Linked DNA regions of Homo sapiens. The protein of the gene in region 6 interacts with the protein of the main gene of each other region in a biochemical or structural test. Each region holds a gene or a part of one and is shown on either strand. Other genes may lie near its edges. The genes, in order: SLC22A3, ZSCAN30, TRMT13, SLC5A12, NCBP2L, PDLIM1 and PLCB1.

Region 1 (5,119 bases), on a different chromosome or scaffold from region 6:
TGCCTAGTTTTATGCTTAGGTTCAACAAAACATGGAGAGCCCTGTCGAAATAGGATTGGACCAAAAGGGTGTGATCTGATGCTGATACTGAGTGAGGAAACCCAGCGAGGCCGGTGGCTCTAGATTCTTCTTGGCCTCTCTGAGCAGCCTTTTTTTCCTTCTGGGTAAGGGGCAGGTTCTTCTGTGGAATGGGAGGTCTTAGGACTGCAATCAACAAGGTAGAACAGTTGATTTCTTTATGGCCAGTTTTTACACAGACAAGTGAGGGAAAATCACAGTGATATTTTTGTTTTATGACTGGCTTTGGGGAAAAGCGTTCTGGTTTCGATGGCTAGCCTGGGGGAGAATGGGACCGAGAGACAGGAGGGCAGAAGATGACACAGAGACTGCTTCTGAGGCCTTCATTTTGGCGTATTGTTTTCTGAGCTCCAACATTGGCAAAAGGGGTTCCAAGCCGAGATGACCTAAGAGTACAGGCCTGAGGAGTGAGTGGTGTCCCCGCCATACTGAGGTTCTGAGTCTGGGCCCAGGACATGGTTGCACCGAAAGGCAGGGCAGGAAAGGGGAGCTGGGTTGGAGGGGGACAGACTGAGTCTGGGGTCCAGCGGGCAGTTGAAACTGCTGGTGAGGACATGAGGCCAGTTTGAATCCAAGCAGCCTGGCTTCAAACTCCTTGTTCCGGAGGAGGAACCGCAAGTCCTCCCAAGGCCTTGGAGAAAAGTGAGCTAAAGGCAGAACGTGGGCCGATAACGTGGGGGCGTGGGGGGACCGCGACCCAGCCCGGGGAAGGCGTCCCAGCATGGACCCAGCAGCCTGGGCAGCCTGGGCGGGAAGTTCTGATCGCGCTCTGCCGAATTGGCAGGCGCAATAAGTAAGCGGAAAAACCAGGATTCAAACCAACCACCAACACCCTTCCCTGGCGTTCAGACCGAAGGTGGGTGGGAAGGCCCTGGCGAAGGAGGTCTGCATCAGGCCTGGCCTTGAGGCGATCCCTTCTCACCCCAAACCTCCTGGACGCTGAGCAAGCCCCTTCGCCTGTGTGGGTTGCCCGGCTGCCCTCTGGGGAAAGTTGGGTGATCAAATCCCAAGTTGTAGCTCTCGATGGGTCGAGGGCGATGGCCAGCGCTGTGCTGGGAACGGGCAGCCCTGCCCTGCCCTGCCCTGCCCTGCCCTGCCCTGCCCTGCCCTGCCCCACATGGGCGCAGGAGGCCTCCGCACGCGCAAGGGCCAAGGGCTGGAGGGGGCTCTCCCGGGCACAGGCACCGGACCCGGGGCGCGCGCGCGCGTCCTTAGTCCCCGGGCTGCACTCCGGGCCGCTGAGAGATCGGGTCCCAGAAGTTCCGGGAGTGGTCGGGTGACCCTGGAACTTTCTTCTTCTGGAGCCCGACCTGGGGCTGACTGCAGAGCAGGCTGCTGGCAGGGACCAAAAGGAGCTCCGCGCCAGGCCGGAGGCTGCGCCCGTCACTCGCGGTCCCGGCCGGGTCCCTGGCGCGTAGTCAGGCCGCACCGCCCGAGCCCCACCGCGCGCCCACCCCGGCCGGGTGCGTCCGGCTCGCGGCCGTCCCTCCCGCGACCTGTGGCCCGGGGCTGCTGCGGGCGCCCGGGGAAGAGAGGCGGGGGCCGCGGGGGGCAGGAGGAGCGGCTGCGGCCGGCACAGCGCCAGGGCGAGTGAGGCGGGTGGCGCGGGGGAGGCGGCGGAGTAAAGAGAGGCCGCCGGCTGGGTCCGCGGGTCACTCCGAGGCGCGGGCTGCGGGCGGCGGGCGGCGGGCGCACCATGCCCTCCTTCGACGAGGCGCTGCAGCGGGTGGGCGAGTTCGGGCGCTTCCAGAGGCGCGTGTTTTTGCTGCTGTGCCTGACGGGCGTCACCTTCGCCTTCCTCTTCGTCGGCGTGGTCTTCCTGGGCACGCAGCCCGACCACTACTGGTGCCGCGGGCCAAGTGCCGCGGCGCTGGCCGAGCGCTGCGGCTGGAGCCCGGAGGAGGAGTGGAACCGCACGGCGCCCGCCTCCCGCGGCCCAGAGCCCCCCGAGCGCCGCGGCCGCTGCCAGCGCTACCTCCTGGAGGCGGCCAACGACAGCGCCTCCGCCACTAGCGCTCTCAGCTGCGCGGACCCACTCGCCGCCTTCCCCAACCGCTCGGCTCCCCTTGTGCCGTGCCGCGGCGGCTGGCGCTACGCCCAGGCCCACTCCACCATCGTCAGCGAGGTAAGGGCGCCCCGGCCCTTTGGAAGCCGGCGGGAGAGGACGATGCTGGCTCCCAGGCGGACAAGCCGCGTGTGAGACGCTGGCCGCCAGGGGAGGTCGGTGGAGACGGGGACCGGTCGGCTACCTCTGGGGACAGACAGGATTCAGCGCACCCTTGGAAGTGCCGCGTCGTAAATGCTGGGAAAAGCCTTTCGTTATCTGCCTGAGCCCGTGAGTTAATGCACAGATACTTTGGTTTCGGGTGTGAACAAAAACTTTCTTCGAAGCCGAGTTGTAAACGCCTGGCGCACGCCTGCTCAGGAGTCAAAGACCCAGCACCGCGTTCCTTATCTTTGAGGTGTGCGGGCGCCGTCATTGGAAATTATGGTTAGGTGCGCGATAGGGAACTTCAGTCTCTGGGGTGAGCGACGTTGGCAGTTCCGGATTCGCTTATGGTCTCCAGGGTCAAAGGAAAGGGCGAACCAACGTTTGAAGGCAGCAGCAGCTTTTTTCCAGTTGCCCAAATGGTTACTCAAAATGCAAGGGGACAAAGGTCGAGGCTTTCCCGGGGAATGGTTTTGGTAAAATTGCTTTGGGGCAAAGAGCAACATCTGGGATAAGTTGGGAAAACTGAAGTATTGGATAAATTTTAGTTTTTTTTTCTGGTAATAAATTTTAGGAACATAGCGGGAGGGCCACAGCCTTCCAACGCAAATCCCCAACCCATTTACAGGCGGAGGCTGCTGCCGGCGGGTGGGCGGGGGCGATCCCCACATTTTGGGCAGTCAGTGCATTTGGAAGTTAGGGGAGCTTCCTTCACCCTTGCCCTCAGTAATCTGTTTCTGCATCCTTGCTGAAATGGAAGATTGCCTCTCTGTGAGGTCCAGATATAGAGCAGAGTCACTTTGTAATAATCGGAACTCAGAAACGGCCTCAATTGAGCATGGGTTGCAGAGATGAGCAGTTTTACTGAGCTTTGTCTACAATCACAGCTTAAGTTAATTTTAAAAAAAGATTGAATGTGATCAGGTACATTAGGAAAAAAGGTTTGTCTTTTTTTTGTGATAAACTTTAAAAAATCACCTACTTGAAGAGTGGGGAAAACACTGGATGAGGAGGTAGGAGCGCCCTTTCTGCCGCTGTTGCTGTTGGTCTGGTGAGCTTATCTCGCTGCAGTTGGGAGTGTCGGTGGTTGCAATTGTACATGTTTTATACGCCATGTGCTGGTGTGTTCGCACAGTGGATGGCTCTATGCTATGTGCTCCAGGGATAAAACCCATGGCAGGACAGCCAGGCGATGTGTGTATGTGTTTGGGATCTTTCTGTAACGCCGTGTGCTGCTGTGTTCGCACAGTGGATGGCTCTATGCTAAGTGCTCCAGGGATAAAACCCCCTGGCAGGACAGCCAGGCAATGTGTATGTGTGTTCAGGGTGTTTCTATAATGCCACATGCAAGTGTGTTCGCACACTGAGTGGCTCTATGCTGAGTGATCTCAGGATAAACCCCCCTGGCAAGACAGCCAGGCAATACATATGTGTGTTGGGATCTTTAATTTCTACTTAATCCATGGTAAGGCTGGGGACTGCTTTATAATTGGTGATGGTCTGGTTAGAGATTTCACAGTTGAAAGGACAGGGCATGGACTTGGATGAGAGAGGGCATTATCTCTGTGAGTCGCATCTGTTAGGTGGCTTCTTCCACTCCACTCAGCAGCGCTGCCTAATGCTTACTTCCCAAGTGAACCAGAGGACCCACATGGAGGGCAGACAGCTGATTTTTGGAGACATTTAAAGATGAAGAATAAAACGAGCCTCAACAAGTGCTCAAGCGAGGTTTGCATGAGTGAGTATGATCCATGGACATCAAAGAAGACAGACATAAAAATCTGTAATTTAATGCTCTGACGGATACTTTGGAAGCATTCTGGAGTTGCAGGGTTACTAGCATCCCGGGGTTACAATAAGGTGATTTTATGAAGATCAGTGGCTACTAAAATGCAGTGTGGAATGATGGAGGGTCAGGGGCTGGCTCGGTCTCCAGCTGGCTGTGTGGCTTGGGTGAGTTACTCGCCTTCTCTGGGCTTGTATTTTTCCTCTGTAAAATTAGCCATTGGATTCAGCCCGTTACAATGCTCCAAATGCCATCAGGGTCACCACCTGGTTACTGTTTGGTGTGCCCAGAACAATGATTAAAAAGTCTTTAAGAAAGTAGAATGATATTAGGAATGTACCCCGTAAAGCCCCAAAAAAGTTTTTGAAATATATTGGAGAGATTCTTTTTTGTTTTGTTTTGTTTTGTTTTCTTTGAGACGGAGTCTCTCTCTGTCGCCCAGGCTGGTGTGCAGTGGCGTGATCTCGGCTTACTGCAAGCTCCGCCTCCCAGGTTCCTGCCATTCTCCTGCCTCAGCCTCCCGAATAGCTGGGACTACAGGCGACTGCCACCATGCCCGGCTAATTTTTTGTATTTTTAGTAGAGGCGGGGTTTCACTGTGTTAGCCAGGATGGTCTCGATCTCCTGACCTCGTGATCCGCCCGCCTTGGCTTCCCAAAGTGCTGGGATTACAGGTGTGAGCCACCGCGCCCAGCCTCTTTTTAAATTCCAAATAGTTTTGTGCTTCTTTTGGTTTGTTTTTCATGTTTGGTTTCTTAAGAGGAAAACCCCCATCTATTCATAAAGTTCAACTATCCAAAACAAGTCAGCAACTCTCTGAATTCTGCATAGCTAATATTTTGCTGTCTTTGGTTCAACTAATTTTTTTCTTTCAAATTCTGTCTGATGAAAGGAACTGTAGTTCCATCTTCAGCTAACATTATGTATCCAGTGTATTTTTATAAACTTGAAGCCTAAGATACAAATCATGCAAAGGGGTGAATTGGGAGAGTTTACAAAGTGGGCGGGATGACCAGACTCCAGAATGCCTCCATATAGCTATAATA
Region 2 (4,327 bases), on a different chromosome or scaffold from region 6:
GGTGAGCCAGGCGTGAAGTAGCAAGGGATGTGTGAGCGAAAGAGTGTGGGGTCTGGCCACTGCACACAGTCAGGCACGCTGGCTGCTGCAGCAGGGTGGGCAGCTCCAGGTGCCAGTACGGGCCCTGGCTCACTGCAAGGCTGTGACTGGACTAAGTACACCACAGTGGTGCCCAGAAGCTTGGAGACTCCAGGAAATGCAGGGCCCCAACGGGAGTCACAATCCTGGCTCAGGGAGCTTCCTGGTCTGGGCTTCCTGAAGGGCCACAGCTCTTCTCTCCTCTTTGCCTGCAATGTGGTGAGCAAGGGGCATGTTTCAGCTCTGTTTGTGTTACAGCTCTTTCAGCCCCACCATTCAGCAGGTCTCAAGTTCTTGTCCTGCATCCAGATAGAATGAGGTATGTAGACAAGTGGAGGCTGAGCAAAGTGAAGAGGAGCTTTACTGAGAAGGAGGAGCTTTACTGAGCAACAGAATAGCTCAGAGGAGACCCTGGAGTGGGTAGCTCCTCTCTGCAGGCAGCTTGTCCCATCATCGCTGCAGCTGTCAGCAAAGAGGAGGCCCTGAAGTGGGTAGCTCCTCTCTGCAGGTTGGTCCTCCTGTTGTCTCTGCAGCTCTCAGCAGAAAAGAGGCCCTGGAGTAGGTAGCTCCTCTCTGCTGGCAGGTCTTCTCCCCCAGTCTGGCTGAGTCCAGGGAATTTTATGGGCCTCAGAGAGGAAGAAGTGCATGCTGATTGGTCCATTGGTGGCCATGGGCAGGTCCAAGAAAAAGCACCACCAGTTCCCCCTCCAGTCAGGGGGACTGGTGGCCTGGCCATTAGGCTTCAGGCCTTCTGGGGACCCGCCCCTTTCTGCCTCAGAGCATGTCGCCTCCTACTGCTTTCTATGGTGCCCAGGCTGTTCGTGGGGACAAGCACCTGCAGGCAAATGCTGAACTGCCTTCAGCCTTCCCTCAGCCTCCCTTCTATGTTTGTCAGCACCCAAAGTCTGGAGGGGGCTGAAGCAGCAGAGGAATGGCCTGTCAGCACTGCCTCAAGTATGCGCACAACTGGCTGGGCTGCAACAGCACCCTGGCTCGGCCCCAACCTTGCTCCTAGATCAGAGCAGTCACCAGGAGCAGGGAGAGGCCAGGCAGCAGAAGCAGATACCTCCAAGCCTGCTGAGGTGGGGGTGCCTTCCCAGGCCCCTAGAGTGCAGAGATATCCAGGTTGGTCCGCAGCCACAACCTGGGTGGCTACAGCTGCACAAAGGAGGTGGGGGATGCAGGAAGGGCTCATGCCTGCTCCAGCACTCCTGCCTGCTTTGGCACTCCTGCCTGCTCCCAGCCTCCAAGAACACGGTCTGTAGCAAGGACTTGGGTGGCTGCAGTTGCACCCAGGAGAGCAGGGCTCCTGCCTGCTCCTGGTCTCCAAGAACACAGGGAGGCTCAGCCAGCAGCCATGACTTGGGCAGCTGCAGCTATGCCTGGGGAGCTCCCACCCGCCAACTTGGAAGGAGCTGGGCTCCTGCTTGTCCCCGCTCCCTCTGGCTCTGTGAAGCTCACAGCATGGGCAGAGCCTCCTGGCTGCAGCCAGCATCTTGGCAGTGGCCACTCCAGATGGTCCAGATGGCCCACTGTTGCCATCAACAACACTCCAGCCTGGGCAACAGAGTGAGAGACTCCATCTCAAAAAAAGAGAAAAAGGAAAAGGAATAACAATCCTAAACATTTATGCAAATTGTGAGCTTCAAAATACATAAAATTAAAACTGATAGAATCACAAGGAGAATAGACAAAACCACAATTATTGACAGAGAATTCAATACTCATCTTTCAATAATTACTTTTAAAATTAGTAGAAAATCAGCAAAGTATATAGTAAACTTCAGTAATACCATTAACCAACTAACAATAATCAAATAGTCAACCCAACAGCAGCAGAATATATTAATATATCCTTCTCAAATGTGCATGGAACATTTATGAAGACAGACCATGTTTTGGGCCATTAATGAGTCTCAATAGATTTTAAAGGATTCAAGTCATACACAGTATGTTCTTTGACTACAATAAAATTAAATTAGAAATAAATATCAGAAAAATCTCTAGAAACCCCCCAAATATTTAGAAACTGAAATAATCCAAGTTCAAAGTATTCTGAACTGAATGAAAATAAAAAGACAACACATCAGAATTTGTGAGATGCTGCTAAGGCAGTACTTAGGGGAAAATTTATAGCACCAAATTTCTATAACACAAAATAAGAAATATTACAAATCAGAGGCCTCAACTTCCACTTAAAGTAACCAGAAAAAAAAAAGCAAGTTAAACCCAAAGCAAGGAGAAAAAAGGAAATAATAAGGAACAGAGTGGACATTAATAGACCAGAAAATGAAAGACAATTTTTAAATAAATGAAAAGCTGGTTCTCTGTAAAGATAAAAATGACAAAGCTCTGGCCTATCCGACAAGGGGAAATGGGAGAAGATACAAATTACTAATAGCAAGAATGAAAGAGGTAACATCACTGCAGATTCAACAGATACAAAAAGGACAAAGTAATATTATAAACAACTTTATGCCAACTTATACAAAATTGGCTGATTCTTTAAATGATACAAAATACTAAAGCTTACCCTATAAGAAATATATAACCTGAATAGCACCATATCTATTAAAGAAACTGAATTTGTAATTTAAAACCTTCCCACAAAAAAACTCTAGGTCCAGATAGGTTCACTGTGAATTCTGCCAAATATTTAAGGAAGAAATAATACCAATTCTGTACAAACTCTTCAACAATACTGAAGACAATGGGATGCTTTTTGAATCATTCTTTGAGGCCCACGTTACCTTGATCCCAAAACTAGACAACGACATTACAAGAAAACTATAGGCCAATATTCTTCATGAAAAATCCAACAATATATAAAAAGGATAATACATCACAGTGAAGCAGGGTTTTTTACAGGAATGCAGGTTTGGTTTAATGTTCAAAAATCAATCATTGTAAATCACCATATTAACAAACTGTCTTCTCAAAAGATACAGAAAAGGCAATTGACAAAATCCATCCTACATTCCTGATATAAATTCTCACCAAACTAGAATTAGAAAAAAACTTCCTCAGTCTGTTAAAGGGTACCAATAAAAAAAACCACAGCTAACATCATGCTTAACAGAGAAAGGATGCTTAAGATTAAAAAAAAAGACAAAGATCTTCACTTAAGATTGGAAAAAAGACAAAGATTTCCCCTTTCTTCATTTCTACCGAACACTGATATACATAAAGATCAATTTTACTTCTTCTTTTCCAATCTGAATGCCTTTCTCCACCTCCCTTTGCCTGCCTTACTGCGCTGAAAATAAGAAAGGCATCCAGATTGGAAAGGAAGGAGTAAAACTGATCTCATATGTAGAATATCTGATAGAATCTACAAAAACAGCTACTAGAACTAATAAATGAATTTAACAAAGTTGCAAGATACAAGATTAATATACAAAAATCAATTGTATTTCTCTATTATATTACCAACAAACAATCTGAAATTAAAGGAAAAATACAATAGCATCAAAATATATTAAATACTTAGGAATAGATCTGTCAAAAGTTATGAAAGATCTGTAAAATATTAAAAAGAACTATAAAATATTGGTGAGAGATATTAAGGAAGACCTAAATAAATTGAGAAAAATATTGTGTTCATGGATCAGATGACTCAATATTGCTTTAACATGTCAATTCTCCCCATATTGATCTACAGATTCAATCCAATCCCAATCAAAATCTCAGATAGCTTCTTTGTAGAAGTTGACAAACTGATTCAGAAATTGATATGGAAATGCAATGGGCTTAGAATAACCAAAACAACAAAATTAGAGGTCTCACACTACCTGATTTCAAGCCTTATTATAAAGCTAGAGTAATTAAGTGTGGTGTTGGACTAAAGAGACAAGTAGATCAATGAAAAAATAGAGAGGCCAGAAATAGACCCACACATATATGGATAACTGATTTTACAAAGCTTAAAGGAAACTCAGAGGAGAAAGAAATGGTACAGAACAACTGAATATCCACATACCAAAAAAAAAAAAAAAAAAAAATTAACTTTACCCTAAATCTCAGAGTTGTATGGGTAGAAACAAATTAATTCCAGATGGATCAGAGACCAAAATGTAAAACCTAAAAATCCTGGAGGAAATCTTGGTGAACTTATTTTAGGCAAAGATTTCTCAAATATCATACAAAAAGCATGATCCATAAAAGAGCCAATTGATAAACTGTGCTTCATCAAAACTTAAAACTGATGCTATTCAAAAAATATTAACAGAAAGAAAACTGAAGGCACAAT
Region 3 (4,327 bases), on a different chromosome or scaffold from region 6:
TCCCTTGATTGGGGACATGGGTAACTAACTTAAACAAACTACCTTACTTGACATAAAACTTATAACAAGGGAAAAAAGTTAACAACTTAAAGAGATAATAAAATCAAAGCCTATTATGTTATTAAAAAGATTCACGAGTTACTACCACTACTATTACTAGTTAATATTTATTGAATTACTCTGTGCTTGGAACTGTTCTATGCATTTTACTTGTGTTATCTCATTTGATGCTCACAACAACCTTGTGAGGTAGGTATTATTGTTATCATCATCATCCCCATTTTAAAAGGAGGAAATTGAGGCACAAAGAGATTAGGTAGCATGCCCAAGGTCGCACAACTGAAGATGGTAGGTTTGGAATTTGAACCGAGACAGTCTGACAAGATATATGAGACTAAAGTCAGGAATTTTAAATTGGTTAGGCTTCTTATTTACAAATCATATAATCATAGAACTACAGGATAAAAATAGTTATTTCAGAATATCATAATATCTAAAATTAGTAATTCTGAACCTTTGTCTTGGCAAATGTACCATCAATTAAGACAATTTTTACAAATAAAGGCAGAAACAAAATAGGGATAAGATGCAGAAGAGAATAACAGTCCTACCATATATTTGGTTTAGTATTTTCTTGTGCATAGAAACCAGTCATGAGTTAAATAAGGCCTAAATTTGAGAAGGTTTTTGGTTTCATTATCTAATTTCTATTTTATTCCAAATTATTTTCCCAAACAGAAGAGAACATACTTATTGTTTGTGCCTACATATATAAAAAATGACCTGATAAAAGATATGAGATAGCTAATCAACTTCAGAAATTATTTCAAATTTGTGAATTATGTTTGTAAGTATCTTTTTGGAAGTTCTAACTAGACAATTATCCAACAAAATAATTAAGTGAAATAATCTTTTTTCTTTGAAAACAGCTCTTCAGTTTTGTGTTTGTCATGGACAGATTCTGACAATATATACATGTATGGCTCTGGAAATTTGAAGGTGACTTCATTAATTAATTGTGTTTATTAATTGTGAATATCTCTGAATTGTCTGCATTTGAGAAAATCACAATTGTGCTTTCCAGATCTGTAGGGAAAAATGTCCACATATAAGTCAAATTCTCAGATTGGCCCTTGTTACAATCAATCACTACCTCTTGAACTTAAGAAATAAAAAATATTAAATAAAATCAAAGGAAGATAAATTTCCAAAATTAATACAAACAGAAATACGCTAATTATGTGTTGACATGTTATGTATGTTTCAGATCACCAAGTCAACGGTTCAACTACTTTACCAATCTCCATAAATACGGATGGATAATATAATTCAAGATGCCCTTCTAAAGAGGATTACTTTGGTGAATTCTCTAATGTTTGGATTTCTGAAGTAAAAAGAAAAGCTATTACCAAAGTTTAATGAGGCCACAGCATTTTTTAAAGTTCATATTATTTGCTATTTAAAGTATATATTTTTTTGATATAAAAATATAATTAAAAAATTTTTTTTGGTGGAAGACAGATGATGCTCAAATTTCTTTTCCATTAAGCAGTTGTTTCTGGTGATGAAGAATGATTTGGTAAAGCAGTTAACAAAACATTTTCCAAAGACACCAGAGGGTCTGTATAGTACTGCAAAGCAGGACTGAATCCCTTCTGCTGCAAATACTGGATTCGACCTTGGTCAATCAGCAATTTACAAAGATGCCCTATTTTCTTCTTTTCTTCAACACTAAGAAGCCTAAATTGAATAAACACACACAAAACATTGTTAAAATTTTGCAAAAGTTTATAAAAAATTATTTTTGTCACTATTTATTGAGAGACTGTTAACTAACCCATAATGTACTAAGTACTTTGTCCCATGCTTCCAAGACACATTATATTTATGACCACAATAAAAGATGTGTATATTTTAGCTTATTCTAAAATTAGATTATAAAATACATTTTCATGAATTGTTGATAATAGTCATCTAAAGTACAGTACAATATAATATTTCTCCTTTAGTATCATGCATTACAAAAGTAGTCTCTTACCCAGGCAAACAATCAGCGCCATCATCTGTGATTCTGTATCCTCCATCATCATGCTCTTCACTATCATCATTCTGATTATCTTGCCTCTTTGTGGTACTATTTGAGGTTTCCAAAGATGTTTTCCGCATCCCACAAGTTGCCCAACTACTCATTCGCTGGAAATAATGGAATTCCACTGCTCCAAGGCCTAGAGCCCTGAAATATTCTTTGCCCACATAATGTCTCCAATCACACCTGTGGTGACAACAGAGTGCAATAACAATGCCAGCCACAGGGTTCCACTTCTCTGGGACATTTTTTTCATTTCCTTCCTTGGCCAAAGTGTAAATTTCTTTTTCTGTTTTATCATTCTTTATGCGTTTGGCTAAAGGTTCTTCATTCCTTTCCTCAAAACTGGCAGCATAGGTTTCAACCAAACATCGTAATGCAAGATCTGCAAACACAATTATGTGGCCCCCCCAAACCACATCATCTTTAAAAATAAATACTTTTTACATTTATTAAGCAGTACTGTTTTTAAAAACTCAACAATAAAAACAGCAAAAACCTACTCAGCTTTATATTTGTAATAATACTATCATGAATTATCAACTTCATTCAAATTTGCTCTTCTATCTTCTCAATTTCTTTAATGATTTATTCTGCATAAAGCCTACTTCCCAATAAAGCTATCTGAAGCTTAAGATCTACAATTTGAAGAACTTTTACCCAACTACCTGAATTGTCTCTCACTTTTCCTACCTTAGCTGAGGAAATGACTTGTATGGGAAAACTTTATTCACCTACACTTACATTCTAGTTTAAGAAAGGAAAAATGAAGGAAGGAAGGAAGGGAGGGAGGAAGGGCAGACAAATCTGTTTAGGTTGATGCTAGGTCAAGATGCTTGTCTTGAAGAGGCTCATAGCAAATAGTGATGAACTGAAGAGTTGAAAAGAGGGCGTCAGAACAGAATCTGGAAAGCAGGCCTCACTGAGTAGCCTTACTGTATTTATTCATTTATTTAACAAACATTTACTGAATGCCTTTCATGTGCAAAGCACTGAGGATACAATTATTAATATACACAAACTTAAGAGGCAGATGTACTCCACATTACAATGAAAATATTTTAGTATATTTTAAAACTAAATAAATGGATTTTTGATGACTATGGCTATTTCCCATCGAAAACTCCTACACTGTTGACAATACTGGAAAGACCCAAAATGTAGGACCCATATCTTCTTAATCATTAGATTGTCATGTTGTGTCTGTTCAATCAAAAACATATACATATTTTAAAATTTTATTACCCTAAGATATCACAAATGACTATTAAATGATCTGATATTTCACTAGTAAATTTAATTCAATATATGAATTTAAGTCAACAAACATTAGAAACCCATTATTTGCAGAAAGTGATAGCTAATCTATTATTTCATAAACTATTATTTTCTGACAAAATACATTTAGTCATTGTTTTATTCATATTTGACTTAAGTAAGTGATTTTCAGAAATGTGAATAACCAGATAAATTATTAAAAGAATTAAGTTATTTCAGGCCAGGCGCAGTAGCTCACGCCGGCTGAGGTGGGCAGATCACGAGGTCAGGAGATGGAGACCTTCCTGGCTAACACGGTGAAATCCCGTCTCTACTAAAAATACAAAAATTAGCCGGGCGTGGTGGCACGAGTCTGTAGTCCCAGCAATTCGGGAGGCTGAGGCAGGAGAATCGCTTGAAGCCGGGAGGCGGAGGTTGCAGTGAGCCGAGATTGCGCCACTGCACTCCAGTCTGGGCGACAGAGCGAGACTCCGTCTCGAAGAAAAAAAAAAAAGAATTAAGTTATTTCAGAATTAGAAGGAGCTTTAGCAATTTATCTCAATTCATCTTTTATAAAGAACTTAAAAGACAAAGCCACATATGCAGAAAGGGACAAGGAAACACAGCAAATTGGTAGCCAAGATTATTCATTCATTCAAATATTCACTGTGTTCCTGTTATATAGCAAGCATCGTACTAAGTATATACCATATACTCAAAAAATTCAGAGCATGGTGGAAGAATTAGATATATAAACAGATAATTAAAATACCACAAGGTAAAAATATGCAGAGGGTATTATGATAACACCAAGGAGGCATATCTTATTTAAGGGAGCTCCCTGAGAGTGGTGACAACTGAGGTGAAGGATGAGTAAAAATTGACCAGTTGTTTTGTTTGGGTGAGTAGGTGAATGGGGGTGAAATTCCAGATATAGTAGAAATAGTACAGTCTATGGAAAAGCACACAGGGTTTGATGTTGCT
Region 4 (4,327 bases), on a different chromosome or scaffold from region 6:
TTAGGGAGTTGAGGGCAGAGACATCAGATGTCTTTCAGTGTGTAAAGGCACATATACAATGAGTAATTTCACTCTGCACTGCATGATATTTTAATGCCGTAATGCTCAAAAACTACTGCACATATTAGTATTACCTTAGTGCACAGTAACTTTACAATAAAAAGTTATACACACACTATAAATTAGCACATTTTCCAGAAATTAAATGAAATAAAAACACTGTCTTAAAATTATTGAACAATTTACTTACTTTGAACAATCTGTCTATTCCATATGTGCTGCTCATTACATGCTTAGCCATAACTGGTTTTAGTAAAATGGCCTAGTTACTGCAAAAACAACTAAACCAATTGCAATTATGTAACTGAGGAGATTTGATTCTCTTTTTAAATTAATAAATTAGTACAAGTATTGAAAATATAAGGACTTCATTGAATTTAATTTACTAAATTGTTTTTAAAATATTTACTATTTTTGCCTCTACATATTTTCAACTTTTTAGTGACCTAATAGTAAGTAATCCAGAGTGTGTAAAGTAGATATAAGGTTATTTTGGGATTACCTCTTGCTTTATAAAAATTGGCATTATGGCATGCAAGTTAAAAGTATGGACTCTAGGCCAGGCGTGGTGGCTCACGTCTGTAATCCCAGCATTTTGGGAGGCTGAGTTGGGTGGATCACCTGAGGTCAGGAGTTCGAGACCAGCCTGGCCAACATGGAGAAACTCCATCTCTACTAAACAACACACACACACACACACACACACACACACACACACACACACAAAATTAGCCAGGCATGGTGGCGCACATGTAATCCCAGCTACTCGAGAGGCTGAGGCACGAGAATCACTTGAACCTGGGAGGTTGCAGTGAACTGCCGAGATCCACTGCACTCCAACCTGGGCAACAGAGTGAGACTCTGTCTTTAAAAAAATAAAATAAAAAAGACTATGGACTCTAAAGTCTGTTGACTTGGCTTTCAGTGTCAGCTCTGCCACTTGCTAGCTGCATGACCTTGGCGTAAATTACTTAACTTTTATATACCTGGTTTTCACATGTGTAAAATAGTGGTAATAAAAACATCTATCTCAAAGGATGTCTGTGAGGAGTAAATGATTTATTGTATACAAATACTTTTAACAGAGCCTGGCAAATAGTAAATACTATGTAAGAGTGTTGCATTATTATGATCATTGTTGTTGCTATCTTCAAATTTATACCACTTAATCTGTCTATAGTATCTGGAGTTTCTGTTTCTTTCTTCAGCCTCCATTCTCTAGTAGTTATTGAAAGGTATGCTTTCTAGGGTCTTTTTAAATACTAAAGACTGAAAGAGGTGGAGTCTCTTTATCCACCCTGTGAACTTTGGCCAGTTTTGTGACTTGCTTTGACCAGCAGAATGTAGCCAAAGTGATGTTCTGTGAGCTTGGAGCCTAGGCCTTCTGAGCCTTGTAGCTTCTGCCTTTGTCCTCTTGGAATGCTGCCCTGATACTGCTATGTAAGGAAGGTGGCATAGCTGATCTAGCTTCAGGAGCAGCAGTGGACACATAGAGAACAGAGACACCTAGCCAACAGCCAATACAAGTTACCAGACCTGTGAGTGAGGCCATGTCAGACCTCTCTCCATTGATCTTCCAAGTTACTGAAGCTACATGAAAGTCCTGATGAAACCAGAGAGATCACCCAGCCTGACCTCAGAGTTATGAGAAATAATAAATTTTTGGTTTTTGAGCCAATGAGTTTGGAGGCGAGTGTTATATAGCAATAGCCAACTGATTTAAATGCCTTGATATGCAGTGGGATTTCAAGACTAAGATATGCCATCTGTGCTACTTTATCACTACCCTGTCACAAGTCAATGTATAGGGAATTCTTCTCACCCTCAAGTGATAATTTAGGCTTAGCTAGTTTGCAATATCATATATTTTCATTATCTCAATTGTACAGTTTGTTATTAGTCTCATAATATTATCTTCACTTTAAAGTTATTTCCTTCCTTCTCTTATCATACACTCATAAATCTAGTTTGCTATTATTTACCTAATTTAATATTGGCTTATAGGCCAATGTCTACCTGTTCTCTCATATTTCTTGGACTTCTTGGCTTCTGAACTACTTACTTCTCTTCAATTTCAAATTTTCTTTATGATAATGCCCGGGCTACTATTTCACTGTGTTTTCTTGTACAGTGGTTTCTGAGCATTTATACATTACATACTTTTTTTAGGTAAATGCTTTCCTTTTAGTTCTCCTTCAAATAACAGTGGTGGTATTGTTAGTAATTATATTTATATTTTGAGAAATTCAATGTTTATCTATAAGATATTATTGAATACTATTTCAGCAGAGTGAACGGTGCTATATAATATTTGTTGTAAAAGAGATATTTAGGGTCTGAACCAACGTTATGGGGCCTTTTAGGTCATCATAGGGATTAGCTTTTACTCTAGAAATGATGGGTCATTACAGTGTTTGGGAAGGGAAGTGACATGATGGGATTTGTATGTTAAGAGGATTACTCTAGCTAGATATTAAGAATAATTTTAGGGCTTTTACTGCTGAAGCGGGGAGGTAATTGGGAGTTTCCTTACATAATCTGAGCAAGAGATGATAGTAATAGGGTTGTAAGAGAGGATGAATGCAAGTAAATATGTTTTGAAAGTGGGGGGCAAGCACCCAGATTTCTTTTATGAATTGGATGTGGGGAGGGAGAGAGAGGAGTAAAGGCTGGCTCTATGTTATTTGGGCTCGAACCAACCTGAAAAGTAGAGTTGGTATTTCCTGAGATGGAAAAGAGTATGGCTGGATCAAGTTTGGGGTTCTGAAAATAATCCATCATAATGTTGGTAAATGTCACCTCAGGTATTTTTACAAGCAGGCATGAAGCATGCAACTTCTCTGTTGTATTTTTACTTTTGACAATAGGAATAGCTTATATATACACCAAAGGTGACCACTGAATGAATGAGTGAATACATTGAAAGGAAAAGTGGATAAATTCTTTCAGATATAGAATTATGCAGTTGCAGTAGTCTTTCTTCTTTCACAGATGAGAATCCTGAAGCACAGATCACAGAGTGAGATGCCAGCAAATCTCAAACTGGAATTCAAGGAGGCTGATTTCTGATCAGGTCTTTATTCATATAGCTTTTCCCTAGTACTGTCTTTGTAATTTTACTGGGTTGAGTGGAACTTAACTGAAATGCGAAAACCATTGATTTTTTTCAAGATCCCTATAGCAATAGCCTCGTGGCTTTACTGGTTTTCAGGATTCGTTGCCCCTTATGTTTTCCAGACTTCCTTGTGCCACCCAGTACCAAAGCTAATGCTACATATTTTTGGTTTTTGTTACACCTCCCCACTTCTAGTGCCAATCTTTGTATTCATGATTATCTATTGCTATGTAGCATACTACTCCAAAATAAATGTCTCAAAATAACAATTTTAGTTTTTCACAATTCTGCAGATTAACAATTTTGCCTGGCTCAGATGGGCCCCATAAAATTGTGCTGGTCTCACTTGGGACCATCTATGTGACTTCCATAAGGTAGCTAGTTGGCTAGCAGCTTGCTGGCCTAGGGGAATGCAAATGAGACAGCTTGTCCTTGTTACCTTTAGTCTCATCCTCCTGTAGGCTAACCTGAGTTCTTCATGTGATAGAAAAGAGTTCCTCTCAGAAAGAGAACACACCTCATTACAGAAGCATTTTCAAAATTTGTACTTGCAATATATTTACTAGAAATGTCTCTGTCTTAAGTTGCATTCTACTAGAAGCAGATCCTGAAACAAGGATTTGAATGCAAGTTGATTTGGGGGAAGTGATTCTAGTAAGCAGTGATAGACAAGTGGCAACGTGAAACAGAAGAAAAAGATGCCAATTAAAAATGTAATTTTGAGCAGGTTACCACTGTGAACAACTGGGGTTCAATCCAACTGGGGATCTCTAAGAGACAATATAAAGTGCGTCTCAGGGTTGTCCTCACTGAAAGGCAAAAAGCCAGGGTATTTTGTTCCAACCCCATTTAGTAATTGGCTGAGTGCCAATGATAACACCCTCAAGCCTTCTGATCTGCCCTATGGCCCTGTGCAAAGGCTCAGAACACTCTCAAGCAGATAATCTCAGGCACATTTAGATGCCATCAACATGTACTGGAACAGGGAATGCCAATAAACTATGGGTGTTGCACCCTCAGAGACCACAGCAGTCATTAAATCCTACTATAGCCCTAGCTCTGTACCTGGCATTATCATACTTCCCACCATCTGATCCATACAACATCCACTTTCAGAAGAGAAAATCATGGCTTAGTGGCAGAAAATAGTCT
Region 5 (4,327 bases), on a different chromosome or scaffold from region 6:
ACAATTCTTTTTTAGCAGAGTTTTTAATTCATCCAGTGATAGAATGTGAACTTACCTAATCTATTCATGTGGAGGCTGCAATGAACACCTACCTGCTAAAGGTGTTAGAAGGGTCACCCCCAAGGTTAACATCCCCAAAGGTTAAAGAGAAGATAGAAAAGCAATCCAGTTGCCAGGGACCACAGATCACCAAGTTGATCTGTAAACACTGTGAGAGAATATTTCCTACCTAAAAAGTAGAGCTTGGTTGGAGTGGAAAGCTTTCCTTGACTCTTGCTACTGGAGAAAATTAGTCAGAGAGTCTAAAAATAGAAGAAAAACATGAAGAATGGCTCAAAATGATCAGTCAAAATCCTAAGAGGACGGAGGAGAGGAGGTGGCAAAATAAAGTAAATTATCTTCCAGGAAACAAACTTCACTGGGCTTTTGGAGTTGGCAGGACTCTGCAAAGAATCTTTTCAATGGTTGCCTTAAACTAATGCTGGGATTGTTTCAACTATGTGAAAGGAACAAGGATCTGGACTCTTTAAAAAGCCAGGCTACTTTCTGCTCCAGATGAAGGCAGTAGCTCTAAGAAAGGAAATTAGAAAGCGCTGGGACAGTAGTGTTACTACATGCCTTACCTTTATAAGACTGTTCCTAATGGGTGAGAGAGCTGAGAGCCATTGTTGAGGACTGGAACCCTGTGGCCAAATATCTACTTTGTGCCAAGAGAAATTCATGTCTGATTGAGACTGCCTAGTGCTCAGAGTGACAGAAGATGTTCATATGTATTTAACACCTGTATTTAAATGAGTAGTTAAACATAAACATGTCATGGAGGTGAGAGATGAGAAATTACTTAATGGGTACAATCTACACTGTTTGGGTGACGGTTACATTAAAAGCCCAGACTTCACCACTCTGCAATATATCCATGTACCAAAACTGCACTCGAACCCCTTAAATTTGTACAAATAAATAAATAAACAAACATAAGCTGAAACAGACTGGCAGAACTAAAGCGGAGACAATGGCCTGAGACAGGCTACAGGAGAAAAGAGGATAATAAGTGACTGTTTAGTGTAGAAGCTGATCTGGATTAAATTAGGAAGCAGGTGTTAATGGATGCTTGAATTTTTTTGTTTATCATTTGCACTATATGGCCTTACTGTTCAAAGTGTTGTCCGTGGGCCAGCAGGAGCAGCACACCTGGGAGCTTTTTAGAAATGCAGGATCTCAGGCCCCTCCCTAGATCTGCTGAATAATAATCTTCATTTTAACGAGTTTCAGGTGATTTGAGTGCACAGTACAGTTTGAGAAGCACTGACGTATGTGGTTTCTTAGTTGAACTTTTGCCTAACAAAATTCTCTGTCCCTTCCTCCTTCCTTCTCTCCCTTGTACCACCTCTCCTAGTTTCCCAATCTTAGTTTCCTTGTGATCTGGCACATAACTCTAATCATGGCTGATAGCCCCAAAAGTAGTGTTCCCAATATATCCAGATAAAGAAAAGAAAAGAAAAGAGTGGTCAGATATATATTGTAAAGCACAGGTTTGGGCAGTAGGAAACCATTGACTTGGCCTCTAATTGTGCTGTCTGTATAACTTTTGTCAAGTTCCTTGACCCTTCTGAGCCTCAGTCTGTAAAATAAGGGTCATTATAGTATTTACCTCATAGTGTTGTTGTGAGAATGAAATGAAATGAGGGGAAGGTATGTAAACTGCCTAACACAGCGCCTGACACACAGTAAGTGCTCAGTATGTGGTAGTCATTATTATTGAAAGCCATCAGTTCTGAAGTAAACTTAGAACTATGTTATGATTCCAGACTTTCAAAGTCCCCATGAGTCTTTCTGGAGAGCCTCCGGAAAGCCCTGTGTACCTCATCCAGTTCAGCTTTCTTGACTCCAGTACCAGCAGTCAAGCAAAAGTATTTCTTATTCCCTTGGATTGTCTTCTTGTTTTTGCTGAATTACCAAGATTTCCTACTTTGTCATTGCAAATGGCCCACATTTTTAGTACATTAAAGCTAAAAACATCTTTTGTGGGCTGGTCTGGAAATGTAGTTCAATTTATAACAATTTTTTTCTCCTATGGAAAAATGCATGTCACCTTCCAAACAATTGACTTGAGAGTGAACTTTGAGAGCTCAGCCTGTCTGCAGCTTGGAGGCTCCCTGTATGTCAATATATGGAGTGGTCACAAAGGCTAGGTAAACCAAGTCCAGAATTCCAGAGGTGGCTGAAAGACAATTGACAATGCTACAAGGAGTGGAAAGTAGGGCAAATGGATCAATCTGCGTGCACAGTATCAAGATTTAGAAAGCTAATACAGGAAGGGAGATATACCTCTGGAAGGATATTAAAAAATAGCCACAATGACAACACAAACCATTTTTTTTTTTACTATATTAGGTCAGGGGCCCCTAATCGGTAGCTTGGGATCTACAAACAATATCAAGGCCTTGCAAGCTAACTCTCCAACATGATCGCCCTTCTCCTGCCCTGCTCTCTGCAGTTTACCTGGATTCTCAGCTCAGAGAGGAAGACAGTAAGCAGCATCTCCCCAATCCTCTTCACTCCCACACCCTGGTAGCCAGCCCCCAGATTCAGTAAACTTCCCTCTACCTTTAATTTCCGTCTTCCCAGGGAGATCAAGGCATCAGGAATATACAACACAGTTTTTCCTTACAAAAAGGATGAGGACTCCTGTATTGGGTAAAATAAGATGACTGGTGAAAACAGGGCCCCCAGGATGGAGAGGGCTGGAAAGACAGTAAGAAAGGACCATGAAAAAGCAAAGGACTTTTGTGCCTTCTCCCTGAAGTTGTTAGCAAGAAAACCAATTGTATCTGGGGGAACTCTGGGTTAACATGGCAGCAAGATAACACAGTCTGATACCCACCATCTAGGAATGCCCATTAAAATATCCATGAAGCTTTGCAACAAAAAACTAAAACTTGCACTAGCTACGGAAAATAGGGGAAAAGGGACTGTTAATTGCTAATGGAGAAGGAATTTCTGCTAGCTGTTGTAGGGAGATGGGGTTGGACTGAGGAACATATTTATAATCTACATACACTCTACCCTCCTATCCAGAACAGCAAAAGTGCCCAACAAAGTTGGGGAAAGATTTTGATTCACTTCTACCAACTGTCCTTAGATTGGAAATACAGAGGCTCATCAGAAAACCAATGTCATCCCTTTACTATAAAGAAAATATTTTCAGAGGCAACAACAGCTCTGTTCCACTTCTTCTACCATCAATTCCTCTATTTTATTTTTTTCTCTTTCTTTCTTTCTCCTTCCTTCCTTCCTTTCTTTCTTTCCTTCTTTCTTTCTTTCCTTCCTTCCTTCCTTCCTTCCTTCTTTCTTTCCTTCCTTCTTTCTTTTGTTTGTTTTTGAGACAAGGTCTCATTCTGTGGCCCAGGCTGGAGTGCAGTGGCACAATCACAGCTCACTACAGCCTCAACCTCCCAGGCTCAAGCAATCTTCCCACCTCAGCCTCCTGAGTAGCTGAAACCACAGGTGCATGCCACCACACCTGGCTATTTTTTTTTTTTTTTTTTTTTTTGTGGAGATGGGGTTTTGCCATGTTGCCCAGGCTGGTCTTGAACTCCTGAGCTTAAGTGATCCACCCGCCTCAGCTTCCCAAAGTGTTGGAATTACAGGCGTGAGCCACCGCATCTGCCCAGCTCCTCTATTTCCTATATGCTTTGTGGAGACCACAACTTGAGAACACCATGTGGCTGGTGATGGTGGTAGCGGTGGTTGGGGCCAGAGATTGTTATGGTTGGGGCCAGAGATTGTTATCGGGAAAAGTTCTGAACATAAGCATGCTTGCAGACATTATATCTGAAAAAATGTAATGTGTAACATGTAATTTCATATTACATATATAAATATGTAATATGTAATTTCATGTAATATGAAATAATGTAACATGTAACAAATTGCAGAGTTGAATGACCCAAAAGATCAGAGATGGAAGATTCCATCTATCTCAGTCCAGCCAAACCTAAAAATAATGATAGCAGCAACAATAACACTATCAACTGCCACCAGTTGCTGGGCAATTATTATATGCCAGACACTATATTAAGTACTTAACATGTCATGCATTATCTTACATACTCCTCATAGTAAACATAACTTGCCATTCAAGTTTGTTTGAAAAGGTCAGGTAACAATAATGACATCTACCACATATTGAGTTGTGACTATGTGGTAGGTACCAAGTGTTATACATCCACCATCTCATTAGATGAATGCCTACTAGGCACTAAAAATGGGCTTGGATAAGTACTTTGTCCTTCTCAATTCATCCTTCAAGCCATCATCTCCTCTA
Region 6 (4,327 bases):
ACATTTCCAATTAGAATGGAAGTCAATGGAAAATTCAGGTTGAAAATTCGGATGATTTCACTTTCTAAAGAATCTTTCAAGAATGCATCTGGTTTGTACATAAAAGGAATATCTCTACCCTCATCTGAATACTGACTGGTCTTTCCAGAAAGCAGGCAGATTCAGGGCTTGCCTTTTAGAAGGGATGATGTAATTGTTTGGGCTTTGTATTTATCAGTCTCCAAGGAAACTCAATAATGAGGAAGTACAAACTAGGTGTGTAACTATGCTGACCTCAGATAAGCTGGGGTGTTGGTTGGCATTACATGAACCAACAGATCTTTTTATTATAGATGAACTCTGCTCTTACTCATTTATCCTCTACTTTAGAATGGCTGGAAGTAAAAGACTGGAAAAATGATGGGTGAGAAGTTTTTCTTACAGTAATAAAGCATTACTAGAATCACAAGAAAAATACAAGGGTTTAAAGTATTTGAGAATTTTTGTAATCTGAAGAGAACTACCTTCAAAAGATTAATACAGGTAACTACAGATTTAAAATGAAAATTCAAATATACTACAAATGAAAACTATAACTGAAATTTACATAATTACCTTATTTACATGAAAATGAGGATTTCAGATAGACCAAGTTAAAACGAAATCATTCCTTGTGTGTTATAAAATATGTAAAAATTAAAATTTAACAATTAAAATTTAACATTTATGGTAAATTTAATGAAGTAGCTGAGAACTCCCAAGGAAACTGAAACTAACTGTGGCATGTTTTAAATTAGTTTGCACAACTGCCAGTGTATAGACCAAGTGCCATTTTACGAACTTTCCTGAGAGGAGTTGTATAGAAGAATATGTTCACATCAGTTTTGAAATGATGCAAAATGATCCTTAAAATGACTCTTGGGATTTTTAATAATTATTTTTACTATCTTAATGGCAAAAATTTTATGTGACTTCGTTTTTGAAATTTTAATGGATTCTATTTGAGAAAATATGACTTATATCCAACCACCCAATTAACACACACTAATATACCAAGTGAGTTCAACTTCATACAAGTTTCTGTTTTATGTATAAAAGATAGCTAGCTATATATTGTATTTTAATTACATCTTAATTCACCATAAAAACTAAATAGTATCCCAAATTTAGAAAAATAAGTTAAATTTCAAATCTTCAACTTGGGTCAAATGCATAACCATCACAAACCAGTGTAAAATTTTCAAAAGGCATTATCAACATACCTAGTTTATCATTACTAATTCATTAATGTATCCAACAGACACATACTTTGAGACAAGTAGCATGTTGGGTGTGAGGAATTTTACAAAAGATGTTCTAAACATCTCTAAGTTTGTCCCTTATTTCAAAAACAATACCCATGCCTTGTAGATTATTTAGAAGAGGCACATAAGGCAGAAAGAAATAAAATCACCTACAATCCAATAATCCAACTACTGAGAGATTTATTCACAAATATGGGATCTTAGGGCAGTCTACTGTCCTGAGAAATTCTATCTGGGTGACAAATTGTACACTATGTACTGCTTTTTTTTATATTAATTGCTGCTTTATTTTAGTAATTTTAAAGTCTCACTAGAAGTTTCACTGTAACAAAAATAGAGATTTCCACTCCATGGCTCATGGAAACCAGACAGGGGCATACAGTGGGGAGAAGCAGGGCTTCCTATTACATATTCCCCGATTTCTTCTAGGCTCTAGGCCTCCAGACCTAAACTTATTTTCATCCCTGTCATGATTCATTTGTTGCTGAAATCCATAACGAGCTGAATAGCTCCTTGACTTCACTGTGATCCTGCCAACCCTTCCCACGCAGGAAGGCTTCCACCGGCTTCCCTTATCGCCTTCCGACCCCCTGCTTCCAGCCCAGGACACAGCGTCACTGCCCTGGGGTTTTCCAGCCCTATCCTCCTGCAGTTCCCTTACGGGAAGAACTGAACAAGAGCCAGATACCAGCAGAGACAGTGAAGGGTCTTATCCCCAGGCCTCCAGGGCAGGAAAAACAGGAATGTGCTGAGCAGTGTCAGAAACGGCAAAGTGCTGGGTGGTGAGAGCAGCGGCAACGATGAGCAAGAACTTACCTGGGGTTCAGAGGCTAAATTCATCTTGTATGGATGACGCTTCCCTTCCTCCGTCACCAGAGGAGACCAGACTTTATGTTCAGATCTGCAACAGATTAACAAAGCTGCTGTTTCACTCATGTAAAATAAATAATATATACCAAAGACAAACTGGAAAAATGCCCCCTCTTTCCTGGACTAGGCACTGAACTAGCACCCTCCCATCAGCTCTACCTTCCATTTGCCACCAGGTTGATCTTTTAAACACCCCAATCTGATAACATCCATGGCTGATGGCTCCCCAGCATAGCCCCAAGGGGCTTCCCAAGCACTTCATCCTCCCTCACCACACTCTGGGTAGCTGACACCAGCAGTGTGGTCTCCTCCATGTTCCTAAGCATGACTCACACTGCCCTATCTCTGCTCAGGATAGAATGGGCTTCTCCTCTATCTCAACCCAGTGTGTTTGGTCCAGACCAAATAACCAACTTATTTGTGAAGCCTGTTTGACCCAAATGAAAATAATGCCTCTTGGCCGGGCGTGGTGGCTCACGCCTGTAATCCCAGCACTTTGGGAGGCTGAGGTGGGGAAATCACTTGAGGTCTGGAGTTTGACATCAGCCTGGCCAACATGGTGAAACCCCATCTCCACTAAAAATACAAAAATTAGCCGGGTGTGGTGGCATACGCCTATAATCCCAGCTACTCGGGAGGCTGAGGCAGGAGACTTGCTTAAACCCAGGAGGCAGAGGTTGCAGTGAGCTGAGATAGCACCACTGCACTTCAGCCTGGGTGACAGAGTGAGACTCCATCCCAAAAAAAAAAAAAAAAGAGAAGAACGCCCCTCTTTTGCTCTTATAAACTATTTTCTTTGTACCAACCACAGAGCAATGATTTTACTTTAGTCTCAGTTTTCATTAGTGTCGTTGTTTCCTCTCTTGCAGGTAGAAAATATTTATACTTATCTTTATTTATTTTATTTATTTATTTTTTGAGACAGAGTCTCGCTCTGTCGCCCAGGCTGGAGTGCAATGAATGGCGTGATCTTGGCTCACTGCAACCTCCGCTTCCCAGGCTCAAGCGATTCTCCCAGCCCAGTCTCCCGAGTAGCTGAGATTACAGGCACCTGCCATCATCCCTAGCTAATTTTTTTGTGTTTTTGTAGAAACAGGGTTTCATCATGTTGGCCAGGCTGGTCTTGAACTCCTAACCTCAGGTGATCTACCCACCTCGGCCTCCCAAAGTGCTGGGATTACAGACTAGAGCCACCATACCTGGCCATACTTAACTTTATATTTGTCACAATGTCTATGCCAGATATACAAGATGTCCCTTTTCAACATGCCGGTAAACAAATAAAAAATCAATTAATCAATGAATGAATGAATGTCCTGAACTCGGGCTTGAAGGAGAGGATTTGGACAAAGATAGAAATGGAGATGAGAATGAAGGGCAGATGTGCTTTTGAGGGGGTAGTAATAACACAGTGTACCTCTCATGGGGTAGGTCTCTGAAGTGTACAAAATATTTTTATATACTCCCCCACACTCGATCCACCTGCCAGTCCTGTGCCACAAAGCAAAAAAAAAAAAGCAAAAAACATACTTCACAGATGAGAATCTAACCAAAGGCTCCATGACAAAGAGCTGTGGCAGCTAAGGTTAGTGAGATAACAGGTGATCAGAATGAAACATCTGAATTTGATGCAGTAGGAAACAGGGAGCCAACTGAGGGTTGAACCAAATCACTTCCGAAATCCTGCCTTTGCGGGACCCCTTCCAAGGCTAAATGAAAGAAGAATGGAAATTCTACCCTAATTACAGCTCCCAAGGTGCTACCCTCATTCATTCTTTTATCCCCAGCGCTCCTTGCTTGTCATGTACCTAAAGTTACACTCAGTACTCTGCTGCTAATGTGTTCAAGTTTTTCTCTGTTATTGCAATCTCCTGGCATGGTACCCACTGCTCAGCACAATGCAGTAGCAGCAGCATCCTAAGGACATTTTTTTTTTTGAGATGGAGTTTCGCTCTGTCGCCCAGGCTGGAGTGCAGTGACGCCATCTCAGCTCACTGCAAACTCTGCCTCCTGGGTTCAAGTGATTCTCCTGCCTCGGCCTCCCGAGTAGCTGGAACTACAGGTGCACGCTACCACACCTGGCTAATTTTTTAATTTTTAGTGGAGATAGGGTTTCACCATGTTGGCCAGGCTGGTCTCAAACTCCAGACCTCAAGTGATTTGTCTGCCTCGGC
Region 7 (4,327 bases), on a different chromosome or scaffold from region 6:
GCGAGTTAAACAAAAGGGACTGAGCCTCTAACTCTGGGAATTTCAAGGCTCCAGTTACAGCAAATGACATGCTGTCCCCTCCACCTATGTCTATGCAGGTCTGCCTTGGGAACCACCTCACACATCAGTGCCTTCGCTGTCCATCTGTGTATGTTATTCAAATTCACATAAGTTAAGATAAAGATCCAGGATGATAAAAACCAATCCTGATGGGTGGGATTAGAGAATTACTTCTTTCTGTAGTTAATAACACAAAGCAATCCTGTTCAGGTTCTTTGGATAAGCCTCCCTACTTTCCTTCTTCTGTTCTTGTTCTCCCTTAGCCCAAAGCAGCAAGCCAAGATGGCGGAGTACTGCCGACTGATCTTTGGGGATGCCCTTCTCATGGAGCCCCTGGAAAAATATCCAGTAAGCAGTTCTGATGTTTGTCCTTGAAGGAATGTATGCATTATTGATGAATGAGGTTGAGGGAAAACTTACTTCCTTTTCATATTTATGTTTCTTGGTAAGATTAATGCAGTTGGTGATGAAATCTTTGACAAGGAGGATACCAGCAATGGGCCCCACTAAGGGTAGAGGAATGCCTCTGCACTCTTCCTCTTCCCACACTCTTCTCTCTCGCTGGCTGCCTGATGAAACTCAATCAAGAGTGCAGATTTCCCAACAATTACAATCAGCCCATAGAGACAGTCCAAGAGGACAGGCCTCTGCTCACTCCCAGGGAACCTCGTCACACCTCTTTGAGATGAATGGATTGGCAAAACAGGACACTGCAGGTGGCACAATGTCTTCTTGGCCTGTCCCTGCTGGCTGTTCTCTATTTCCTTGGATGCACCTTTTGGTGTGGCACAACTCAGGTCGCCCATTGCATTGATGATATCTCTGCTTTGGGAAGGAAAGCAGCAGAAATATCCTAAAGTAGCATTTTCCTTCCCGCACCCTTTTGCCCAATCTCCATGCATTTGTAAGTGAGTTTATACCAGTCCCTCCGCTCATTGCAAGCCAAGAATAGAGGACTAACTTAGGCATTCTATAGATTTTCTTAAAGTAACCTATCTTGTGGCTTGCACACATGCTCTCTGATACAATATCTAATGACCCCCTCATGGGAAATTGATTTTCCCGTTAGATGTACAAACTTGAAACAGTCAAAATAAGGCTTGCAAATGTGGTAGCTTGAATCTTAGGGCTGGGAGGAAATCTGAAGCCACCTCATCCACTTCTGTTGATGCCAGGGACGTGCAGCTAAACTACCTAGTACCAGGATGGGGATTTTGCTGATTTTAAGGGGCATCTGAAAAAATGATTTCATGGGCTCACCTGGAAGCTTCTGCCCGTCTTTACCAACTCCTCCTGGCAGATGCCTGGCTTCCCTCCTTCAAAAATTCAGGCCAGGGCCTTCTTATCTGTCCTAAATCAAGATGATTGGGTTTCTATGTTCCATTGGAAAATTCATAAATGTTCAGATTTAGTACATCAAATCTACCAGTACATTTCTATGGTCTTCTTCATGTAGAATATGTTGAAAAAAAAAGTATAGTAATGAAAATATATCTTTGATATAAAAAAAAATTAGCTCCCATGTAAGATACACTAAGAGTTTAATGAGCAGTGTTGAAGGTAGGGAAGAAGTCTAGACATTTGGTATCCACAGCTGATCTGGGGGTCTGGGGAGGGGATCTGAAAGAGGGAGCAGTATTTTTAAAGAATATGCCTTTCATTTCTATTAGCTGGAATCTGGAGTTCCTCTTCCAAGCCCTATGGATTTAATGTATAAAATTTTGGTGAAAAATAAGAAGAAATCACACAAGTCATCAGAAGGAAGCGGCAAAAAGAAGCTCTCAGAACAAGCCTCCAACACCTACAGTGACTCCTCCAGCATGTTCGAGCCCTCATCCCCAGGAGCCGGTGAGGGGCTGGTGGGCTCTCCCCGTCATGTTTTGTGTTGGTTTAAGAATTGCTGCTCTGGGCTGTGCGTGGTGGCTCATGCCTGTAATACTACTACTTTTGGAGGCTGAGGCAGGTGGATTATGAGGTCAGGAGTTCGAGACCATCCTGGCCAACATGGTGAAACCCCGTGTCTTTGGTGGCCAACATGGTGAAATCCTGTCTCTTGCAAAAATACAAAAATTATCTGGGCATAGTGGCACGTACCTGTAGTCCCAGCTACTCGGGAGGCTGAGGCAGGAGAATCGCTTGAACCTAGGAGGCAGATGTTGCAGTAAGACAAGATCCAGCCACTGCACTCCAGCCTGGTGACAGAGTGAGACTCCGTCTCAAAAAAAAAAGAATTTGCTGCTCTGAAATTAGCTTAGAAGGACTTTGAACATTCCTATTTCTGCACAGTTTTGAACTACTGGTTTTCTCTTGCTGCTACAAACTTAGCGGCTTAAACCAGCACAAATGTATTATCCTCTAGTCCTGTAAGTCAGGAAGCCCCCTGGGTTTCACTGGGCTACACTCCAGGTGTCAGCCGGGCTGTGTTCCTTCCTGGAGGCGCTAAGGGAGAAGCTGTTTCCTTGCTTTTTCCAGCTTCTAGAGGCCACCCACATTCGTTGGCTTGGGGCTCCTTCCAGCTTCAAAGCCAGCAAGGCTGCATTTCACTAACCTTTCTCCTGTGGTCACATCTCCCTCTGACCACAGGCAGGAAATGTCCTCTGCTGGCAAGAACTCAAGTCATTACATTGGATCCATCCAGATAATCCAGGATAATTGCTCCCATGTCAAGGTCTTTAACTCCATCTCACCTGCAATGTCCCTTTTATCATGCAAGCTAACATATTCATGGAGCAGAGACATCTCTGGGAGGTCATTATTCTGGCTACCATGTAAGCCAAATAGTCTTCAGAGTGACCATATGACTTTAAGCTTCATAATGGGAAATATTAACTATAGAACTGAGCACTGGATGCATTGTCATTGATGATATGCTGAAGAGTTCTGGGCATTTCAATTTTTTCATGTTTTAAAGAACTTTTTAAAATCTGTGACATGGCAAAATTACTTAAATTATCTTTTGAAGCTCCTAGAGGATGCCTAATATCATTTCTTTTCCTTTTAAATTAAGGGTGAAATAGATTGCTGTGGTTGATGAGAAAAGAATTCAGTGGCACTCATTTCCTTGGGATTATTTGTCATTTAGTCTGATTTATCTTCCAAGTTCAGTCAGAAGCTTGGCAATCTGAAAATCGCATTATAGACATCTCCTGATTGCAGGGTGATTAAGTGGAAGAAACTTTTAAGCTTGACTGTAGGAAGTTTTTCAGTTATAAGTTAAACATAGGAACAATCAATTGGAAAACTACTTAGCAGTGTCTACAAAAGCTGAATATATGCACTCCCTGTACCTCGGGAGTTCCATTCCTAGGTATATGCTTGCTAAAGATGTGTATTTAGGTTTACCAAGAGACACGTACAAGAATTGCTTAAAGCAGAGGTATTCAGAATAGCCAAATACTGGACACCAAATACTCGTCAACAGATAAATGAATTATGGTATATTCACACAAAGAAAGAATATGCAGCCATGAGAATAATCTATAACTAAATGAAAACTATGGATGAATCACTATAAATAAACATAATATTGAGCAAAGGAAGTCAGGTACACAAAAACTACATACTGTATGATTTAACCTATATAACACACAAAAACAGGCAAAACTAATTTATGCTATTTATTAGAAGTCAGGATAATGGGTTCCCTTGGAAGAAAAGCAACCAGCAGGGAGCCCAAGAGCCTTCTAGAGATTGGTTATATTTTGTTTCTTGATCTGGATATCATTTACTCAGACACGTTTATTTGGTGAAAATTCTTTGCACTGTGGACTTACGACGTGTACTTTTCTGTACGCCTGTTATACATCAGTTATAAGATTTTAAAATAATTAAAATATAAACTCTAGGACAATCAGGGTTAAAAAAAAGTAGCCTGAGACTCTGATTTATCTTTTCTTCTATTTTTCTGTCTCAATTGCCTGTTTTTTTATTGTTTCGATTAAAATCTTTATCAACAGACGTTATATAATTCTTTGAAAGGGTTTTGTCCTGTAGCTTTTGAATGTGTACTTTCATCATTATTGTGCATGTCTTTCAACATTTTTTCAAAAATAATTTCTGTACTCAGTAAAAATGTTCTCTTTGAAGTTTGGAAGTGAGTATCATTAACAGGCCTTTCATTCACACCTATTTCCTAACACAACTCTATCCGTTGAATGATAGCAAGCAAACCTTGTCTTCCTTTGCATGTGGGTGCTTGTGTTTTTTACCATCTGCCTTTCCCACTACCAGTTCTCTGCCTCTTATTAACAGGATGCATAACACAAAT

What was found.
Region 1: the proteins of PDLIM1 (region 6) and SLC22A3 interact in a test that uses a peptide from one of them, tested with the Homo sapiens proteins (one large-scale study listed by IntAct).
Region 2: the proteins of PDLIM1 (region 6) and ZSCAN30 interact in a test that uses a peptide from one of them, tested with the Homo sapiens proteins (one large-scale study listed by IntAct).
Region 3: the proteins of PDLIM1 (region 6) and TRMT13 interact in a test that uses a peptide from one of them, tested with the Homo sapiens proteins (one large-scale study listed by IntAct).
Region 4: the proteins of PDLIM1 (region 6) and SLC5A12 interact in a test that uses a peptide from one of them, tested with the Homo sapiens proteins (one large-scale study listed by IntAct).
Region 5: the proteins of PDLIM1 (region 6) and NCBP2L interact in a test that uses a peptide from one of them, tested with the Homo sapiens proteins (one large-scale study listed by IntAct).
Region 7: the proteins of PDLIM1 (region 6) and PLCB1 interact in a test that uses a peptide from one of them, tested with the Homo sapiens proteins (one large-scale study listed by IntAct).

The regions. Positions count from the first base shown.
Region 1 is NC_000006.12:160,346,646-160,351,764, forward strand, and holds the start of SLC22A3 (solute carrier family 22 member 3), read left to right. Parts: upstream 1-1,732; 5' UTR 1,733-1,774; coding exon 1,775-2,203; exon of another isoform or gene 2,204-2,377; coding exon of another isoform or gene 2,378-2,413; intron 2,414-2,434; exon of another isoform or gene 2,435-2,540; intron 2,541-3,012; exon of another isoform or gene 3,013-4,025; intron 4,026-5,119.
Region 2 is NC_000018.10:35,283,517-35,287,843, forward strand, and holds part of ZSCAN30 (zinc finger and SCAN domain-containing protein 30), read right to left. Parts: intron 1-4,327. UniProt on the Homo sapiens protein: May be involved in transcriptional regulation.
Region 3 is NC_000001.11:100,146,038-100,150,364, reverse strand, and holds part of TRMT13 (tRNA:m(4)X modification enzyme TRM13 homolog), read right to left. Parts: intron 3,839-4,327; coding exon of another isoform or gene 3,693-3,838; exon of another isoform or gene 2,472-3,692; coding exon 2,039-2,471; exon of another isoform or gene 1,741-2,038; coding exon 1,545-1,740; 3' UTR 1,324-1,544; coding exon of another isoform or gene 1,268-1,323; 3' UTR 998-1,267; coding exon of another isoform or gene 930-997; 3' UTR 1-929. Other genes in the region: LRRC39 (leucine-rich repeat-containing protein 39), read left to right, coding at 930-997. UniProt on the Homo sapiens protein: tRNA methylase which 2'-O-methylates cytidine(4) in tRNA(Pro) and tRNA(Gly)(GCC), and adenosine(4) in tRNA(His).
Region 4 is NC_000011.10:26,715,079-26,719,405, reverse strand, and holds part of SLC5A12 (sodium-coupled monocarboxylate transporter 2), read left to right. Parts: intron 1-3,051; exon of another isoform or gene 3,052-3,133; intron 3,134-4,327. UniProt on the Homo sapiens protein: Acts as an electroneutral and low-affinity sodium (Na(+))-dependent sodium-coupled solute transporter.
Region 5 is NC_000023.11:107,784,034-107,788,360, reverse strand, and holds part of NCBP2L (nuclear cap-binding protein subunit 2-like), read right to left. Parts: intron 1-4,327.
Region 6 is NC_000010.11:95,266,679-95,271,005, forward strand, and holds part of PDLIM1 (PDZ and LIM domain protein 1), read right to left. Parts: intron 2,185-4,327; coding exon 2,100-2,184; intron 1-2,099. UniProt on the Homo sapiens protein: Cytoskeletal protein that may act as an adapter that brings other proteins (like kinases) to the cytoskeleton. Involved in assembly, disassembly and directioning of stress fibers in fibroblasts.
Region 7 is NC_000020.11:8,715,941-8,720,267, forward strand, and holds part of PLCB1 (1-phosphatidylinositol 4,5-bisphosphate phosphodiesterase beta-1), read left to right. Parts: intron 1-323; coding exon 324-408; intron 409-1,730; coding exon 1,731-1,908; intron 1,909-4,327.